Homo sapiens: one gene and its partners. The protein of the gene in region 2 interacts with the protein of the main gene of each other region in a pairwise test. Each region holds a gene or a part of one and is shown on either strand. Other genes may lie near its edges.

Region 1 (8,009 bases), on a different chromosome or scaffold from region 2:
GTCTGTTTTCTGGCTTCAGTAATTATACAATATTACTAAACTCCTAAAATTCTAAGTACTCTTCTTCCTGCAAGCTTTCCTGGAGCAAGTATTACTGGAAATAACAGTCTTCAAAGTATAAATCACACTTGCATGGTACATTAATGGTTAAAGCTCTTTCAGATATTTTATTTCATTAAAAGATCAATGAGGCTGGGCGTGCTGGCTCACGTCTGTAATCCCAGCACTTTGGGAGGCCAAGGCAGGTGGATCACGAGGTCAGGCATTCGAGACCAGCCTGGCCAACACAGTGAAACCCCGTCTCTACTAAAAATACAAAAAAAAAAAAAAAATTAGCCGGGCGTGGTGGCGGGTGGCTGTAATCCCAGCTACTCAGGAGACTGAGGCAGGAGAATCGCTTGAACCTGGGAGGCGGAGGTTGCAGTTAGTTGACATCCCGCCACTGCAATCCAGCCCGGGTGACAGTGTGAGACTCCGTCTCAAAAAAAAAAAATCAATGATGCAGTCTACGGCTCTGAAATTCTGGAAAAGTTATCTGTTTGGCCTACTGCTTCTTTGATAAATAACTGGAGCTGATAATTTTGATGAATATGCTAATTAATATCTCATGGTCACTGTCTCCAACATCCATGGTTCCAAATGTTTTATAAACATAACCTCACTGAACTCCCATAAATTTTGAGATATACTATTATTGTCTCCGTTTTATACACTGGAAACTGAAGCACAGAGAGGCTAAGTAACTTGCCCTAGGTCCCAAAGCTAGATAATAAACCAACCTGTTGTACCCAGGTAAGAACTAAGATGCATTAACTTTTGTGTAACTGAGTGTGAATGGTGAAGATTCGTCTTCTTATATGTCCTGTCAATAACATAGGTAGCAACATTTAAAAGGGAGATGTTTCTTTAAAAACAAAGGCTTTTCAAAATCCTTTAAGGATTATAAGCTCAAGATTTGGCCTAGTTTCCTAAAAACATCGAAAACCTCTTTCCCAAAAGGAGTGTTCTCCTGAGACAAGCACCAAGTGCTGTCAAGCTTTTTCCTCTGCCAGTTACAGACTCTCCCACAGGGAAGCACTTCCTGACTTGAAATAATGTTGTAACATTAAAATAACCTCCTGGCATGAGGTACTATGACATTAAATTTTATTAGAGTGAATTTTAAATGTTTTGTGAATCAAAACATTTAAAAGGAGTTAGTGTGGCGCTAGCACTTGATGGTACTGTCATAACTTTTAAATGCAAAACAAAACATAATTCATAGCTATATCTCCTACACATCACATGAGAAATTTAGAAACCAGCTGTGATAAACGTCCTCTGAGAGGTTCCTGAGGACAGGGACCCTTATCTTCTTGCATTTTTGCAGCCTTTATGCATTTCTGCAGTTATGCGTACTGCATGCAACTTGTCCTTAAGCATTTCCTAAAGACGTATCAATAGCGGTAAAGTATTATAATTTATAGCCAAAAGAATGAAGTTGGCAAAACAAGCTAAGAGCCCATTATGTCTGTCTTCTGAAATAGAGTCTGAACTGAATGTGTACAGAAATAAAATCGTGTCTAGTCATGCAATGGGTTAAGTATCTGCTCTTGGTAACAGCAAAGGATCTTTCACTTTCAAAAGAAAACAACGAAACAGGCACACACAAAATTTCTGCCTTTCTCATCCTAAACAGCTGAATCATTCACATATTCAACAGCCCAGAATTCTTCCGGGCTGTCAGTGCGGGCTCTGCTTTTTGAGAGGTTGGAATTTAAAATCCTCCTTAGGAGAGCACGGAAGAATTACAGGAAATTAAAGGGATTCCCAAAGGACGCCTGACTTAAACAGCAGCAGCGTTACCGTTAATCAAACAGGAGGCTCTGGCTATCAATCAATCTCCGGAGAAGGAAAAATACTATGCTGAGAAAATATATTCGTTCATTAGTCAAGTATTTACTAAAGGTGTACTCGGCGCAAGGCCCCTGGAGAGAGGCCAACAAGCACACCAGCTCTGGATCCCTCGCCGGACCGCCCCCTCCCCGGCGGGGCCCACCTGCAGGCGGGACGCCCCCAGGTGCGCGTTCCAGGCGCCGGGGGCGGCCCCCGCACCCACCCCTCCGGCTCCACCCCGGCGCGCCTCACCCGGACCGGTCTCAGGAGCGATACGGGCTTCAGCGTGGCGAAATGCACCAATACGACTCGCTACGCACTGAGAAGGGGGCCCCACGCGCGCCCCGAGCTACCGCGCCCGCGGGCCTCAGGGAGCCGCTGACCTTCTAGGTCGTGGGACCCCCGCACCAACCCGGGCCAGGGCGAGGGGGGCGATCTGGGGTCTCCAGAGGGCGCGTGAGGCTGACAGCCCCCCCCCCAGAGTGTTCTAGGGGCTTCGTGGGGCGCTTGGGGAGCTCTGGGGGTCCTAGGGGTTCTCTGAAAGGCGCGTGGGGGCTGAGGGTCCCTGTGAGACTCTGGGGATTCTAAGGGGGCGTGTTAGGGGATCCGGAGAGCGTGTGGGGGCTGAGGAACCCTGGGGAGTTCTGCCGGCCCTAGGGGGTCTCTAAAGTGCGCGTGGGGGCTGAGAGCCCCTGGGAGGATGCGGGGTTTCCAGGGACCCTGGGGGGGCCTGTGGGGTCTCTGGAGGGCGCGTGCGGACTGAGGGCCCCTGGGCGTCCTGGGGGCTCCAGGGGGCGCTGGGGGACCCTACAGGATTTCTGGAGGGCGCCTGCAGGCTGAGGGCCCCTAGACGTGGTCTGAGGGCCCCAGAGGTTGCGTGGGGGACTCGGGGGGTCAGCCTGAAAGGAAGGGGGCCAAGTACGGAGACCCCCCCCCCCCAGGGCACGCACGGTCTGGCGCTCACCCAAACAGCCCTCGGAGGAAGGAGTGGGAGGCCTTGACTCGCTTCTCGGCCTCCGCCATCAGCTGTACTGCCTCACGCTCCTTCCCCGCGTTGTCCATGTCGCCCGCCGCGGCCGCCACAGCCCCCTCAGCCGGCTCGCTGTGCGCCCAGGCGCCTTAACCCTCCCTCTGGCGGCCGCAGGGACGCAGGCGCAGGCGCGACGCGCGAGGCCTTTCGGGAGCTGTAGTCCGGGTCCTGTCATGGCGGCGGGGATTCGCGAGCCGCCTACTACAGTTCCCAGGAGGCCCCGGGGCGGGGTGTGTGTGAGCCGAGCTTGCGCACCGCTAGCTCCCAGGACGTCGGCGCAGGGGGCGTGACCCCCCCAAAGGGGTCCTGGGCCAAGGTGAACTTTAATTTTGTATGTATGCAGAAATGGAAAAATGATCCGTGGCCTCTAGTAAAGATCACCTCCTCAGTAAGACTCGCATGGCAATGGGATGGATGAAGGAACAGGGGATAACAGATTGGATGGAACCCACACCCTTCATGCAAGTTCTGCAAAAGAGAATCTGGTGTAGCCACCAAAGCATCACATGCTTGATACCGCCCACCAAAAAACGAGCAACAGCTGGCAATAAGAGCCATTTTTATCTCCAAGAGCAAGACGTCCCCAATATAAGTTCAGTTATTTTTAAATCTCCCCAAACTGTAACTTTCTGTTGGTCCTCTCTTCCTTGGTTATAAATGAGTTGCATATATGCAATATATGCATAATCCACTCTTTTGTTGACTGAATTATATTCAATGGATGTGAACCATTGAACTCTTATCCTTTACATAATACTGGCCATAGTGGATGGATCTCCAGGGACAAAATGTTTGCCTGCCAGGAAGACTTCTAATCTCCTAGGAGAAGTATCCATAGATAGATGGGATCCTGTGCCAGAGACTTTCAGGCCTGTCCCAGAGGGAGTTATTTTTGAAGACAATGTCTAGACCATTCAAGCTTGGCAGTGCTAAGGCAGAGATGCTGAAACTAATAAGAAAATCACTGCCAAGTGAGATTTATGACAGTTTCAAACTGTTAATAAATACACTCTGGGCACTGGCATGCAAAATTTTAGAAAATGAAGACTGTCTGTAGAGGGCAAGGCAAGAGGGGCCAAACTCCTAGAAAGAAAGTTGACTAAAGCACATGTCACAGAGTTCATACATTTCAGGACTCCGTAGAGATAGAAAGAAATCTCAGCTCTTCGTGCAGTTTATTTACGATTACTACATGCATTATTCTAACTTTGAAAAGCTGAGCTGTGTGTTTTTGGAGAGAGAAGGAGGCGGGAAATTGGAGGTGACCGTAAATGCAGGGGAGACCAGAGAAAAACTGTAAAAAGTGAACATAAGCATTTGGAAAGCAGAGCAGTCTATGGGGGCTTAATGGAGTGAGGCTAAGTCAAAAGCTCCTAAGTAAATCAGTGTGTTGATTAAATCAGTTGTTCCCTAACGTGGTTCGATGCAGAAGCTCTAATGGATATTTAAGAAATACTGATTCCTAGGCCACTGGGTTTTGGTATCAAGGTCTCTTGCAGCTGGGGTCTAGAAAATGCACATTTTGAAAAGAACTCTCCATCCCTATCCTAAAGCACACAGTTCTAGATTCTCATATCTGTAGTCAGTTGAAAAGGAGCTGGAACAGACTGCCTCCCCGAAGCTAGCACTTGCAATTAAGAGAGACATTTTTGGTGGTTTCTAGTAATTTCCTTCATTCTCTTCTTTGTCACAGGAAATTTGTGGGCACTCCCACCGTTCTGCCAGTCCACACCAAAGTGGGAGAAAACCTTCAAACCTTAATTACTGGGTAGAGCTAGTGTTTTATTCTCCCAAAGGCTGGGGGAGGAAAGGAGGCAGGGCAGAGAGATGAACCTCACAGAATAAGGCCTGACTAGAGAGACAGCTGAGGAATCCTTGAAACAAGAAGGAAAAGGAAAGGAGAAGCACCCCTGGTGTGGATCAGGAGAAGAATAGAAGTCATCTTGGAGAAGAGCCAAAGGACCCACTGCCCACACCTGCGCTGCCCAGGATGGAGCCACTCACCACTGGTGGCTATTTACATTCAAGTTAAATAATATTAAATAAAATGTAAAGTTCCATTTCTTGGCTGTACTAGCCGTATTTCAAGTGCTCAATAGCCACACATAGCCAGTGGCTACTGAAAGAGTTATAAATATAGCATCCTGGTGGATTGACTAAGTTAGACACCTGGTGGATTGACTAAGTTAGATACTTGAGGGCGGTGGCTCACGCCTGTAATCCCAGCACTTTGGGAGGCCAAGGCAAGCGGATCACTTGAGGTGAGTAGTTCAAGACCAACCTGGCCAACACAGTAAAACCCCATCTCTACCAAAAATACAAAATTTACAAAAAATACAAAAATTAGTTAGGTGTCGTGGTGCATGCCTGTAATCCCAGCTACTCAGGAGGCTGAGGCAGGAGAATCACTTGAACCTGAGAGGTGGAACAGAGGTTGCAGTGAGCCGAGATTGCACCATTACACTCCAGCCTGGGCGACAGAGTGAGTGAGACTCTGCTCAAAAAAAAAAAAAAAAGTTAGACACCCAAAAAACGACAGGTGCAAGAAGATTATTTTGACTTTTTCTTTTCTTTTTTGCATACAGAATACACACTGGACACTTTGACCTCTTGTTTCTTTCTTTCTTTTTTTTTTTTTTTTGAGACAGAGTTTCACTCTGTTGCCCAGGCCAGAGTGCAGTGGCTCACTGCAAGTTCCGCCTCCCAGGTTCACGCCATTCTCCTGCCTCAGCCTCCCAAGTAGCTGGGACTACAGGCACCCACCACCACACCCGGCTAATTTTTTGGATTTTTAGTAGAGACGGGGTTTCACTGTGTTAGCCAGCATGGTCTCGATCTCCTGACCTCGTGATCCACCAGCCTCGGCCTCCCAAAGTGCTGGGATTACAGGCGTGAGCCACCGCGCCTGGCCCCAACCTCTTGTTTATTTAAAGGCAAGAGATGAAATTCCCATATGAAAGATGTCCCTCTTATACTAGAACTAAAGCAACATTCTTATCATCAAAGACAGGAAGTTGAGGCTAAGAGAATTCTGTACAAACCCTATTAAACTAACCCTTATCTTCTTAGTCACTTTTCTATCCAATTAACTACCCTAGCCCAAGCCCCTCTGCCTCATCACATTTTCAGTTTACTATTCTTTGTCCAATTCAGTAAATAAGTAACACACTCTAACTGCCTCTTTGGGTTTTCATTTCCTTATGAGGCCTCCCATGCCATGTAAAACTTGTATCAAATACACCTGTGTGCTTTCCTGCTATTAACTTGTCTTATGTAAGTTTAATTTTCAGACTCCACCAGGAGCCTGAGATGCCCCCCTACACTACTATATGGACTGCACAGACAGAGAACAATTTTATCATTCCACAAGTCCTAGTGGATGGCACTAGCCTCTATGTGCTTTGCTTTTCAGAAGTTCTGGACACTTGTAAGAAAAGAAGAAAAAGGCTTCAGGGAGTTTCTGAGAAGGCAGAGCAGGAAAGGAGCGTAGCCTGAACAAGGCAGAGCCAACAGTACTGCTGGCTTTTCCCTGTGAGAAGATGGAGGTGGACACCTGGACACTCAGACTGAATCAGCACATACCCCGAAAGATGATCCATCAAGACAGGGCTGAAGCTACTTGAGAACCCCAATACTAAGAAAGCCAGAGTCAGAAAAGAACAGAATCGATATGGGGAAAGGGTGTAGCCATCTGTGTGTGTTCACAGAAGGGGAGAAAGCACCAGGCAAAGATCCAGTATGGAAAATTATGGGACATCACTGCTGCTTCACTGAAGCAAAGCAAGAAGGCTCACCCACATTAAAGGGGAGGGAAATGAGACGACATCTCCTGATGGGAGGGCCTCTGAGGATTTGCAGATGTTTTCACACCACGACAGCTAGGTTAGAGGGAGTCCGTGCTCACCCTGGTCCACTCTGGTTGCATTGACAAAGTTGGGAAGCTGGAGCCCCTACGCTGGCGTTGGGGGACAGCCTTCAGCTCACATGGCCCTGCATGGCATGGCCCAACGGTCCCTGCCCAGGTCTGCAGTGGCCTTCTCTGATGACATCTCAGCCTTCGTTCTGCCTGAAATGCTAAGCGTGGCTCAGAGTCATCGGACAAGGTCAAACCATCTAAAGCAGAGTGTTCTGCTTCAGAAGGCAGGGAAGGAAGAAGTCCATTTCAGGAGGCTCTTCACCCAAAATCGTTAAAGGAATGCATTAATGAAAATAAATCTTCCATCTGTGTGGATGAGGTTGTGCAATTCTAAGGACAGAATTTAATTGTTCTATTTACAGTGATTCTTTTCATTTTTCTCATAGACTAACAAAACCCAAGAACATTTGAATGGCACATTTCAGAGAAATAATTAAACAGCTTTTGTTAATCTCTAAAAAACTTTTTGAAACAACATCAGTTTAAGTGTTTGTGTGTTATGTGTGTGGGGTGACATTTCACACCCTGTGAAAACTGTTACAAGTTTCCCCAAATGTAACTTTATTAATCTTATTTAACCTTTCCTTAAAAAATTACTCTATAAAATTCAGACCAAAAAGTTAGAAAAGGTAAAATTAAATATACGCAAATATCTGTTACAGAAAACAAAAAATGGTAAATTAAGTTAAAATAAATGCTTATGAGAAAATATATATTATTGTCATTAGTAAGTGCTCTTCTTCTTCTTCTTCTTTTTTTTTTTTTTTTTTTTTTTTTTGAGACAGGGTGTCGCTCTGTTGCCCAGGCTAAAATGCACAATCAGGGGAGGAGCCAAGATGGCCGAATAGGAACAGCTCCGGTCTACAGCTCCCAGCGTGAGCGACGCAGAAGACGGGTGATTTCTGCATTTCCATCTGAGGTACCGGGTTCATCTCACTAGGGAGTGCCAGACAGTGGGCGCAGGCCAGTGTGTGTGCGCACCGTGCGCGAGCCGAAGCAGGGCGAGGCATTGCCTCACCTGGGAAGCACAAGGGGTCAGGGAGTTCCCTTTCCGAGTCAAAGAAAGGGGTGACGGACGCACCTGGAAAATCGGGTCACTCCCACCCGAATATTGCGCTTTTCAGACCGGCTTAAGAAACGGCGCACCACGAGACTATATCCCACACCTGGCTCAGAGGGTCCTACGCC
Region 2 (3,249 bases):
GACCCCCACCCAGCCATTCTGTGAACAAGGCCAGGCTAAGCTAATGTGGCCCAGTCATCCCCATTGTCCCAGCCCAGAGCCAGCCAAATATGAGACATGGGAGCAAGGCTACCCTAGACCAGCCAACCCCAAGCCAACCCACCAGCTGACCACGGACGCATAAACAAGCCCAGCCAAGATGACCCAAACCTGGCCAGACCAGACCTATAGCCTCATGAGCTATAATAAATGCTTACTGTATAAGCCCTGAGCTTTGAGGTGGTTTGTTACACACCAATTGCTAACCAATACACCTGGGGATCTTATCTACATCTCCCAACAACTCTGGGATCTTCAGAGAAATTAAACAATGGCTTTTCCTAATCACCCTAAGTTTATACCATCTTTAAGTGACAGAAAAGATTTGAACTCAAATCTATATGAGAAGAAAATGCTATTTTCTCAATCACATAGGACTTTCGAAGGCTTCACCTGGCTTCTCCACTCTGCCATTTTTAGATTGCCAAAAATCAAGCAACACAAAGTACGTAAGTTCTCACGAGAGTATATATTCACTTATATGAAGTATATACACGAGAGTGTATGATTTCACTTATATGAAGTTCTAGAAGCTCTAGAAGAGGCAAGGCCAATAAATAGTGAAAAAGAAGTAGATCACTGGCCTGGAAACAGGGAAGTGGTTGGACTGCCCAGAGGCATGAGGGGACTGGTGGGGGCGATGGCAATGTTATCTATTGCGATCGGAGTGGTAGTCACCTAGGCATGCATATTTGTCAAAGTCATCTCTACTCTTTAAATGAGTGCATTTTTATTATGTAAAAATTATACCTTCATGAAGTTGACTTTCAAAAGTTGGAAAAAAAATAAAAGCTTAAGAACACTATACCATCTTTTTAAAATTAAAGAGAAAAAAATTCAAAATGTTAGCAGTGCTTCCAATCTCCCAGTGCTTATTTCTCTCCCAGAGCGGTCTTGCGAGGAGGTCGTGAGAAGAGTCCTCCTCCCACCGCCATTTCTGTGGCCGGGTGGTCCCACCAAAGGCAGCTCAGTGACTCTCCTGGCTGGTCTGACCCAGGCCAGCCTCGCAGACCCAGTGGTAGGGCCTCTGGCAGACGTCGTCATTCCACCTGCCGTCTGGATGGAAGTGAGCACAGTCCTCGCCTCCACCCAGCCCGTGCCCCTGCCAGTCGTCTGGCTGGCCTGGCTTCCAGTTCCTGAGAGGAAAAGACAACAGCAAGCTAGGAAGGGTAGATGGAGTAGAATTCAGTTCAGGGGAGGAGAGGCTGCCAGTCAGATCCCTGGGGGAAACGCTGACGGAGGACATTGGCACAGAAAGCCAGGGTGCACTCACTGGAAGCCGGTCGCATAGTCTGTTCCATCCACCCACTTCCAGGCTCCTTCAGGGTCACTGAGGCCCATCCAGGTGTATGCGGAGCCTAGATATTTCTGGACAAAATTCTGCGGTGACAGAAGGGCAGTGGTGACTTCTTCCCATCCCAGCCAACTCCTTAAACTAGTGATTCTCAACTTTAGCTCTTCGTTAAATCAACTGAGGAGTTTGGAGATGTTTCTCTGGATGCTCAGGCCTATTAAATCTCTGAGGGTGTGGCACAGATGACAGTCATTCTGGAAGCTCCCAGATGATTCCAATGTGCGGCCAAGCTTAAGAACCATTTCCCTAAATGGGACATGTCTTAGGAACTGAGTACCAGAAGCCCTCACCTGCTCCTCCCTGGAGTTGATGACCACCAGGTGGGCGTTCTTCAGCTGGCAGTACTTCTCAGCCTCGGCCCAGGACATCCCAGAGTGAGAGAACCAGTAGCAGCTGTCTTGGTGCTCCACCCAGTTGACAGGGCAGCAGGTCCCTTCAGTGGAGGCTGATTGGGGAGAAATAGGATAGGGTGGAGAGGCTGAGGCTCTGCCCAGTGGGCCATGGGCAGAAAAGTAGGGCCAGGTACTCCCCATACCTTCCTCACCATTGTTGTTGAGAGTAGCCACCTGGCAGGTCAGTTTCTTCAGGTCTTGCACCAGCTGCTGGACTCGCAGGAGCATTTCAGAATGAACTGGGACACACACAGATGGGCAGTGGGGACAGTGGCCTAGGTGTGCCTTCTGCGTAGTGTGTTCCTGGAGCTCAGATACCCCTGCACAGGGCCAAGCCAGGGAATGTTCCTTCCCGCCCCCACCCACCCCCTACATCATGGCCAGGTACAGCCATCAAATCTGCTTTGGATTCCTCTGCCCCTGTTTCTCCAGCCTGCTCTCCAGAGAAAGCATGCTGCCTTTCTTTCTTTCTTTCTTTTTTTTTTTTTTTTTTTTGAGACGGAGTTTCACTCTTGCTGCCCAGGCTGGAGTGCAATGGCGCGATCTCGGCTCACGGCTACCTCCGCCTCCCGTGTTCAAGCAATTCTCCTGCCTCAGCCTCCCTAGTAGCTGAGATTACAGGCGCCCACCACCACACCCAGCTATTTTTTGTATTTTTTTTAGTAGAGACGGGGTTTCACCATGTCGATCAGGCTGCTCTCGAACTCCTGACCTCGTGATCCACCCGCCTCGGCCTCCCAAACTGCTGGGATTACAGGCGTGAACCACTGCGCCCGGCCTGCATGCTGCCTTTCAAGCTGCTGGCTGAAGGGGAGGGCAGTTCAGCACCAGGAGTCTGTTCCCACCTCCACTGTGTCTGAGCGCCTAGCCCCCCACACCCATACTCGGAGGGTCTCTCACCTGCCTGCCGTTCCTGCTTGAAACCCTCCACCTCAGCTTTCAGAGATGCTATCGTTTCTTCCAAGCTGCTGCCTGGAGGACACGGAGACTTGGCTTAGGGGTCAACTTCCTCCTCCCTGGCCTGGCCCCAGCCCAGAGCCCCATCCAAACCAGACTCACCCTGGGAAGTCAGTGCCTGGATCTCCGCCACAGTGTTTGAGGTGAAGTTGCTAAAATCTGTTCTCAGGGTCACCAGGTCCCTCTGAAATTTGGAATCTAAACAGGTGGATGGGAAGGTCAGTGCTGGGATTCATCAGGTCCTCTGTACCAGCACCGAGCAGGGCCCTCCATAAGCATTGCCTTATTGGGTCCTCACGGCAACCCAGTGGGGCAGGCACTATTATTGTTCAATATTGCCGATGAGGAAACTAAGCCTCAGAGAGGTGAAGTAATTTGAGTACATAACCCAACTACTCAGTGACAAAGCCAGCAGCCATCCTGACTATGGGTCCGTCAACTCTCTCCATCACTACCCCCACCACCGTC
Region 3 (7,647 bases), on a different chromosome or scaffold from region 2:
CTCATTTACTAGATTAAAAAATGAAAAGTGTATATGAATGCAGCTTAATGTGCCAATGAAAGGCATCATGTGCATTCTCCTTAGTTATAAGTTCCAACCAGCTGCCCTTCATTTTACATATTTTCTATTTTGGCTATTTAATATGCCACGCAACTCAGCATGCTGGACAGTGCACGTGTGTCTGACTTGTAACTAGTCAGCTACAACTACAAGTTGAATTAGTTAATTAACCTCTTTCACATTTTTAGGTCTAAAAACAAAATAGGTGTGTTGATCTATAAGTGGGTCTTGATGGCAGAAATACTTCCCCATAGTGGCATCTGGAAATATATAGGGGTAGTCTTTTCTTTTTCTATGCCTAGTAGTTTTCACTGGCATTTATTGACTTAGATACTAGGTAAGCTAAATACCCTGCAATCTTAAGGATGATCTCACACAATGAAAAATTGCCCTGCCCAGGCTGACTTGCCATAGTGCTCAAGCCTGTAATATTAGCACTTTGGGAGGCTACAGCTGGAGGATCACTGAGCCCAGGAGTTTGAGACCACCCTGGGCAACATAGCAAGGCCCCCATCTCTACTCTACAAAAAAAGAAAAGAAAATTTGCCAGGCATGGTGGCACTCACCTGCAGTGCCAGCTACTTGGGAGGCAGAAGCAGGAGGATCTCTTGAGCCCAGGAGTTCAAGGGTGCAGTCAGCCATGATCGCACCACGGCACTCCAGCCTGGGTGACAGAACAAGACTCCAACTCAAAAAATAAAGAAAGAAAAGAGGCCGGGCGCGGTGGCTCACGCCTGTAATCCCAGCACTTTGGGAGGCCGAGGCGGGCGGATCAAGAGGTCAGGAGATCGAGACCATCCCGGCTAAAACGGTGAAACCCCGTCTCTACTAAAAATACAAAAAAATTAGCCGGGCGTAGTGGCGGGCGCCTGTAGTCCCAGCTACTTGGGAGGCTGAGGCAGGAGAATGGCGTGAACCCGGGAGGCGGAGCTTGCAGTGAGCCAAGATCCCGCCACTGCACTCCAGCCTGGGCGACAGAGTGAGACTCCGTCTCAAAAAAAAAAAAAAAAAAAGAAAGAAAAGAAAAATTGCCTAGCCCAAAATGTTATAGTGAGATCGTTCATAAATTTAATCCTTAAAGTTCTTTCAAGTTCTAAAATTACATGATTCTAAGTGGAAAGTACATTTTGAAAATTATTGTTTTACAATGCAGACATGAGTATCAGGCTAACATCAGCCAATAGGGTTTCTGTTTTCTTCCTCTTTTGCGTTCTTGCGTGTTCCTGGCTGGCCCATTACTTTCAGGTGCAATATGTGGGCTCTATGAATGAAATGGTCAGATTCTCTGGTGTGAAACTCAAACTACTGTCCCCATTCCTCATGCATCCAAAACTAGCCTGGAAAGTCTTTTTGGCCATTATACACCAACCCAGTTCCAGGTGATAGAATATGAGAAATGGAATGGAGCCTAAAAGGCTATCTTGTCCCCTCACCTCTACTGCCCCAAAATTACCAAAGCAACCAACACAAGGGTTCTTTCTCTAATGAGCGATGAAAGTGATCTTTCTTATTCCATAAGGCTCCTGCTCTGGAAGGCTCTGGTAATGGCGACCATTTTCCTGGTAACTTAGGGTTATTTGTAACTCCAGCAGCTGCCACAGAAGGCTCAGATGGGAACTCAAAGTTGTAAGATAAGCTCTTCATTTATTTTCCTTAATCAGGGCTGTCTTGGTTTTCCTGCCCCTGGGGCAATAGTGGCAATGTGAGGAACAGAGACCTTGCCCCTTTGTAAAGGAACAAGTGGAGTAACCACTCTGGACCTATCATTGGACCTGACTTTAACTCAGTGTTTCTCAACAGTGCAACCAAATGTCAAAAATCACAGACAAACATTGTTTGCACTTGCTTGTTAGTTCCAGGATTAAATAGACAGTCTTTTATTACCTAAGTTCTAAAATGTTTTGGTTTTATTTTTTCCCTATCATAATTTTTTAAATTTAGTTTTCCTATTTTATTTATTCTAAGCTCTTTCATCTACTCACATATGATGACCCCCAAAGGTAAAGCATACTAACCGCTTCTTATATATACATTCATATTTTTCTCCCTGATCAAAATCCATTACAGATCATATGAGTATGTCTATGTGTGTCTGTGTTCACATTTATACAGATTTTTAAAAATCAGCATTCATTTTTGAAATAAGGATCATATTATAAGCACTTTTTTGCATGTTGCTTTTTTCCTTTCTAGTACTTTAATGGGGTATTTCTCCAAGCTATCTGTTAGCTCTAATTTACAGAATAATTTATTCACTTCTCTAACAAAAAGCATTCATTCTATCTCATTTTTGATACTTTGAACAACACTGAAATAAACTTTTTTATACAATTTGTTAAAGCATGCTTATATTTGTATTTTTATAAGATATATTCCCAAAAGTAAAATCACCTGATCAAACAGCATATATCTTTTTTCTAAAGAAAAACTGAAGACACTTTATTTTTATCATTATTGAAGTTAACAATTGACAAGCCCATTAGAGAAAACATTTTACATAATTTTACATCACTGACTTAGAGCCCACACATACATGACAAAGATAGCTAAAAACATATGAAAAAATATATCTTTGGAAATAAACACAGCATTCCTCTGGCTATGAAACTAAAAAAGTTTGAGACACTTTTTAAACTTGTAGCAGAAGATGCAACAGACTGTCAGCTTCATTTAGCACTGCCTGCACTAATTGTTGTTCACTCGATTCTTTACGAGATATTAGCTTCAGAATATGGACCCTAAAGAATCCACATCTTTGGAATGTTCCATCATAGCTTTGATGATCAAGTCTGAGTCTCCAAAAGCCACTCTCATTTTATAGAAATCTTTCAACTGTTATGCATCATCAGACATGACAACAGGTGTCACAAGAGATATATGCCTTGCCTCCAGCAAATCAATTAGAAGAAAACAAAAATTTCTTTAAAATACAAAGAAAATATAGAGCAAGAGAACAGAATATAAGTCTTCCACTCATATCCTCCAACAGCAACAATAATCTAGCAACCATCCAGGGATGAAAGTTTCTTCTTAGCAGTTTTGTGATTTGGAGGGGACAACAGAGTAGAGAATGCCCACTGCCCCAACCAGAGCCTGGGCATTTGAGATTCTGAAGATTTAAAAAGGGGCTCTGCAGAAAGCTGTGGCAAGCAAAGGATAGGCTAGAGAGAGACAGGACTAATAAATGTGTCGACTTCAGATACATTCTTGTGAAGGACAGCAAAGAATAGGTGGCCTTTTCACCTCCTAGAGAGATAAAACATCGGAGGCCAAGGTAGAATTGGGTGTGTCCTGCCAATCTTTAAATGAATAAGGCTATAGGAGTAGTATTGCTTCCTGAAGTAGTCACAATCTTTTCTTTGCATTATTTTAATTCTATTTATGTAGCATTAAAAACTGAAAAGAAGTTCTATGTAAAATGAGAGCAGAGAAAATCATGTTGTCTGAATTGCAGCCCTAGAAAATTTCATGAACCTATGACTTGTTTTTAATTTTTATCTACAAGTCACATTTGCTCATTTTTAACTACATGCCACATTTTATATGTACCTATGTATACATGTATTTATGTGTACATACCCTTTAATCCTCTAATCCTTGTTAAAAAAAAAATAGCCAGACAGGAATTAATAGTGTAGTTATCCCTATTTTATTAATGAGTAAATCAACGATTGGAAAGGTTAAGTGATTTGCCCAAGGCCACAGAGCTATAGAAGTGATTTGGAATCTCTCATACTCACACTTCAGAGATGAAGATTACTGTCTTCAAAAGGCATGAAGGGTAATTCCTCAAAATTAGACATATACCAGTTTACACTAAGTATCACTTGCTTAATGAAGGAGTTAACTAGACAAAATGAGTGAGATGTTATAATTCTAAGTGACATCAAAATATAGTTGATAGGAAAACTTTTTTTGAAATTCTACTATATTTCATGACTGGGAGTTAGGTGCAGTTTATTTTGTCTAACTGCCAACATAATTTTACCTGGTACTAATTTTACCTGGTTCCTGGTACTAATAGATCAATTTGTGGAATTTTGATCTTTTCTGTGACCACACACTGTACTCAGAAACAAGTAAATATAAGCTTGAGAAATACAGGCCTTTGACCCCAAAATTCCAAGACAGGACATGAAAAGAGAGAGCAGAGAAAAGTCATCCTCCTTATTGGGCTATCTCAATTAAGTAGCTAAGTTTCTACAGTATTTGGAGGACTACTATGAGCTACCCACAAAAGAACTAGGAATAAGGAAAACAAGGTAAACTTTCAAATAACACATAATAAAATGGAGTACAGAACTGCAAAGTCACCTGGGAGAAACTACTTGACTCCCAGGCCAAGGGTCCAAGAGTATAACCAGCAGCTTGTGTTTACCATAATCAAAGGAAAAGTAGAAACTGGGTGGCCATGGGAGACTGGCCTACAGTCCCATCCATCACAGAGGGTTGGCGTGTGCTCACCCATTCAAGGACCAATAAATGAGTATCTCTTTAAGAGCAGCTCCTCCCATTTTTCAACAATCTTCCTAATATGTAGGCTCACTAGAACATTTTCTCTTTCAAACTGCCCAGACGGTTGGACAGGACGTAGACACACAGAAGAAAAGAAGACAAAGAACGGGTAGGAAAATTAAAAAGGTAGGAGGCTGAGGCGGGTGGATCACCTGAGGTCAGGAGCTTGAGACCAGCCTGACCAACATGGTGAAACCAAATCTCTACCAAAGATACAAAAATTAGCCAGGCGTAGTGGTGCATGCCTGTAATCCCAGCTACTTGGGAGGCTGAGGCAGGAGAATCACTTGAATCTGGGAGGCAGAGGTTGCAGTGAGCCGAGATCACACCATTGTACTCCAACCTGGATAAAAGCGAAACTCCGTCTCAAAAAAAAAAAGAAAAGAAAAAGAATAAAAGGTGATATAGTAAAGGGTTGAGGGTGGGATGGGTAAATGAAGAAGGAGCATGCTGTAGTTTTATACCAAATATGGCTAGAATGAGAATGATATAATTCAGGCAGTTTGTTTGTTTCTGGGAATCACGGATCATGATGTTTAATCATCCAAGTCTATTTCCCTGCATAGCTATGTGATTTTGTCTAAAAAGAAAAAAAAAAGTAGTGAAAGAAGTAGTGGTAGAGCCTAAAGACAGTGTCAGGAACAGAAAAAAGTTAGGAAACGTAATTTTCTTAGAGGGGAATGGACGCTGAAGGTAGTGGGAAAAAATTGTTTTTAGGTAAGAACATGACTTCTTTCCCCAACACCCCCCGGAGAGAAGGTCTCACTCTGTCACCTAGGCTACAGTGCAGTGCTGTAACCATAGCTCACTGCAGCCTCAAACTCCTGGGCTCAAGCGATACCCCAGCTCAACAGGACTATATAATCCCAGAGTAGCTGGGACTATAGGTATGCACCATTTACTTGTCTTTTTAATTGAGAAGGTGAAGTACATTATTGATGGGGAGAAGGGGTGACTACCTGGCACACTGAAATACAGACATCTTCAGACCTTGTTCCTCATTATCCGTATCTAAGTAAAAAGAAGATACAGATTGCGTGTGTGTGTGTGTGTGTGTATGACTGTGTGTGTGTATACATATACATATGTGTTTCTTCATTCCCATATACAGGCATATGTATGTGGGTGGGTGGGTGGATGTGTCTACAGGTGTTTTAGTTGCGAATCTTTATTTCTTCTGCTTACTCTTTTTGGTAGACAGTAAATGACAAAGTCCAAAAGCAAAAAAGATAAATATGTATGCTGGGTCATCAGTCTCTTAATTTTGGAGAGCTGATGACTAAAAACAAAGTGCTTATTTTTTTTTCAGAAGAAAACTTTCTCTTTAGAAATTAGAGAGAAATGAAAATGTAGTTAGATCACTAAAAGGAATTTGTTTTCTAGAGACAAGGTCTTACTCTGTCACCCAGGCTGGAGTGCAGTGGTACAATCACGGCTCACTGCAGCCTGGAACTCCTGAACTCAAGTGATCCTACCGCCTCAGCCTCCTGAGTAGCTGGGAGTACAGGCATGTGCCACCACACCCAGCTGATTTTGTTTGTTTTTTGTTTTGTTTTGTGGAGACAGGGTCTCACTCTGTTGTCCAGGCTGCTTTCAAACTCCTGGGCTCAAGTGATCCTCCCACCTCAGCCTCCCAAAGTGCTGGGATTACAGGCGTGAGCTACCATACTCAGCCAGTGTTTATTAAAAAGTAAAGTTTTTATTAAGCCAAAGAGCGAAATCAAAATAAATAGATAAATAAGTAAATACATTTTCAGCAATGTTGTTACTGGAAATGTTCTCTGGGCCTTTGCACAGGTTACCATGGGGAAGAAAGTGGCCATCATTGGAGCTGGTGTGAGTGGCTTGGCCTCCATCAGGAGCTGTCTGGAAGAGGGGCTGGAGCCCACCTGCTTTGAGAAGAGCAATGACATTGGGGGCCTGTGGAAATTTTCAGTGAGTAGCATGTTGTTGTAATAGACAGGAAAATAGGTTGGGAAGTGTATAAGAGCACACTGTGTGCACACAGGTTTCCAAACCTGCTACCATGGCAGTTATCATATCTGTTAGAATTGGAATCCACTAAGTACAGTGTCAAGAGCAGGTTGGAAAGTAACCTCCTTGCAAGTCAGAAGTAAATTAGACAATGGGCTTTGAAATTCTCCATTACAGTTCTCCCTTGATAGATCATTAATAAGAGCCACTTGGACATAAAATTAGTGGTAAATATTAGTTAGGTTTATGTAGTTATAATTATTTACTCATTTAAAACACAATAACTTTTCACATCTTTTTTTTTTTTTACAGATTTAGGGGGTACAAGTGCAGTTTTATTACATGGATATAATGTATAGCAGTTAAGTCTGGGCTTTTGTGTAGCCATGACCCAAATAATGTACATTGCACCCATTAAGTAATTTCTCATACCTCAACCGCCTCCCACTCTCCTACCCTTCCAAGTCTCCAATGTCTATTATTCCCACATTCTATGTCAATGTGTATACATTATGTAGCTCCCAATCGTAAGTGAGAGAATATGTGGTATTTCACTTTCTGTTTCTGAGTTATTTCACTTAAGATAATGGCCTCCAGTCCCATCCATGTTGCTGCAGAAGACATAATTTCATTCTGTATTCTCGCTGGGTAGTATTCCATGGTGTGTGCATATATACATACATATATATGTATATGCGTCTGTGTGTATATATACATATATGTATGTATATACCACATTTTCTTTATCCAATCATCCTTATTGGACAACAAGGTTGATTCCATTTCTTTGCTATTGTGAATGGTGCTGCGATAAACATATGGGTGCAGGAATTTTTTTTATATAATGACTTCTTTTCCTTTGGATAGATATCTACTAGGGGCATTGTTGGGTCAAATGGTAGTTCTATTTTTAATTCTTTGTGAAATCTCCATACTGTTTTCTATAGTTTATATTCCAACCAACAGTGTTTCCTTTTCTCCACATACTCACTAATATCTTTTTTTTTTTTTTTTTTTTTTTTTGAGTGGGAGTCTCACTCTGTCTCCCAGGCTGGAGGGCAGTGGCGCCATCTCAGTTCACTGCAGCCTCCACCTCCT

The links. Proteins that work in one complex are often made in the same cells at the same time.
Region 1: the proteins of CLEC10A (region 2) and NAPB interact in binary tests that used the Homo sapiens proteins (3 or more experiments, as listed by UniProt).
Region 3: the proteins of CLEC10A (region 2) and FMO3 interact in binary tests that used the Homo sapiens proteins (3 or more experiments, as listed by UniProt).

The regions. Positions count from the first base shown.
Region 1 is NC_000020.11:23,418,466-23,426,474, forward strand, and holds the start of NAPB (beta-soluble NSF attachment protein), read right to left. Parts: upstream 3,024-8,009; 5' UTR 2,938-3,023; coding exon 2,840-2,937; intron 1-2,839. UniProt on the Homo sapiens protein: Required for vesicular transport between the endoplasmic reticulum and the Golgi apparatus.
Region 2 is NC_000017.11:7,074,009-7,077,257, forward strand, and holds the end of CLEC10A (C-type lectin domain family 10 member A), read right to left. Parts: intron 2,980-3,249; coding exon 2,884-2,979; intron 2,797-2,883; coding exon 2,725-2,796; intron 2,145-2,724; coding exon of another isoform or gene 2,064-2,144; coding exon 1,977-2,063; coding exon of another isoform or gene 1,968-1,976; intron 1,878-1,967; coding exon 1,723-1,877; intron 1,459-1,722; coding exon 1,352-1,458; intron 1,215-1,351; coding exon 1,046-1,214; 3' UTR 529-1,045; downstream 1-528. UniProt on the Homo sapiens protein: C-type lectin receptor involved in recognition of N-acetylgalactosamine (GalNAc)-terminated glycans by myeloid antigen presenting cells (APCs).
Region 3 is NC_000001.11:171,086,281-171,093,927, forward strand, and holds the start of FMO3 (flavin-containing monooxygenase 3), read left to right. Parts: upstream 1-4,624; 5' UTR 4,625-4,701; intron 4,702-6,372; 5' UTR 6,373-6,378; coding exon 6,379-6,510; intron 6,511-7,647. UniProt on the Homo sapiens protein: Essential hepatic enzyme that catalyzes the oxygenation of a wide variety of nitrogen- and sulfur-containing compounds including drugs as well as dietary compounds.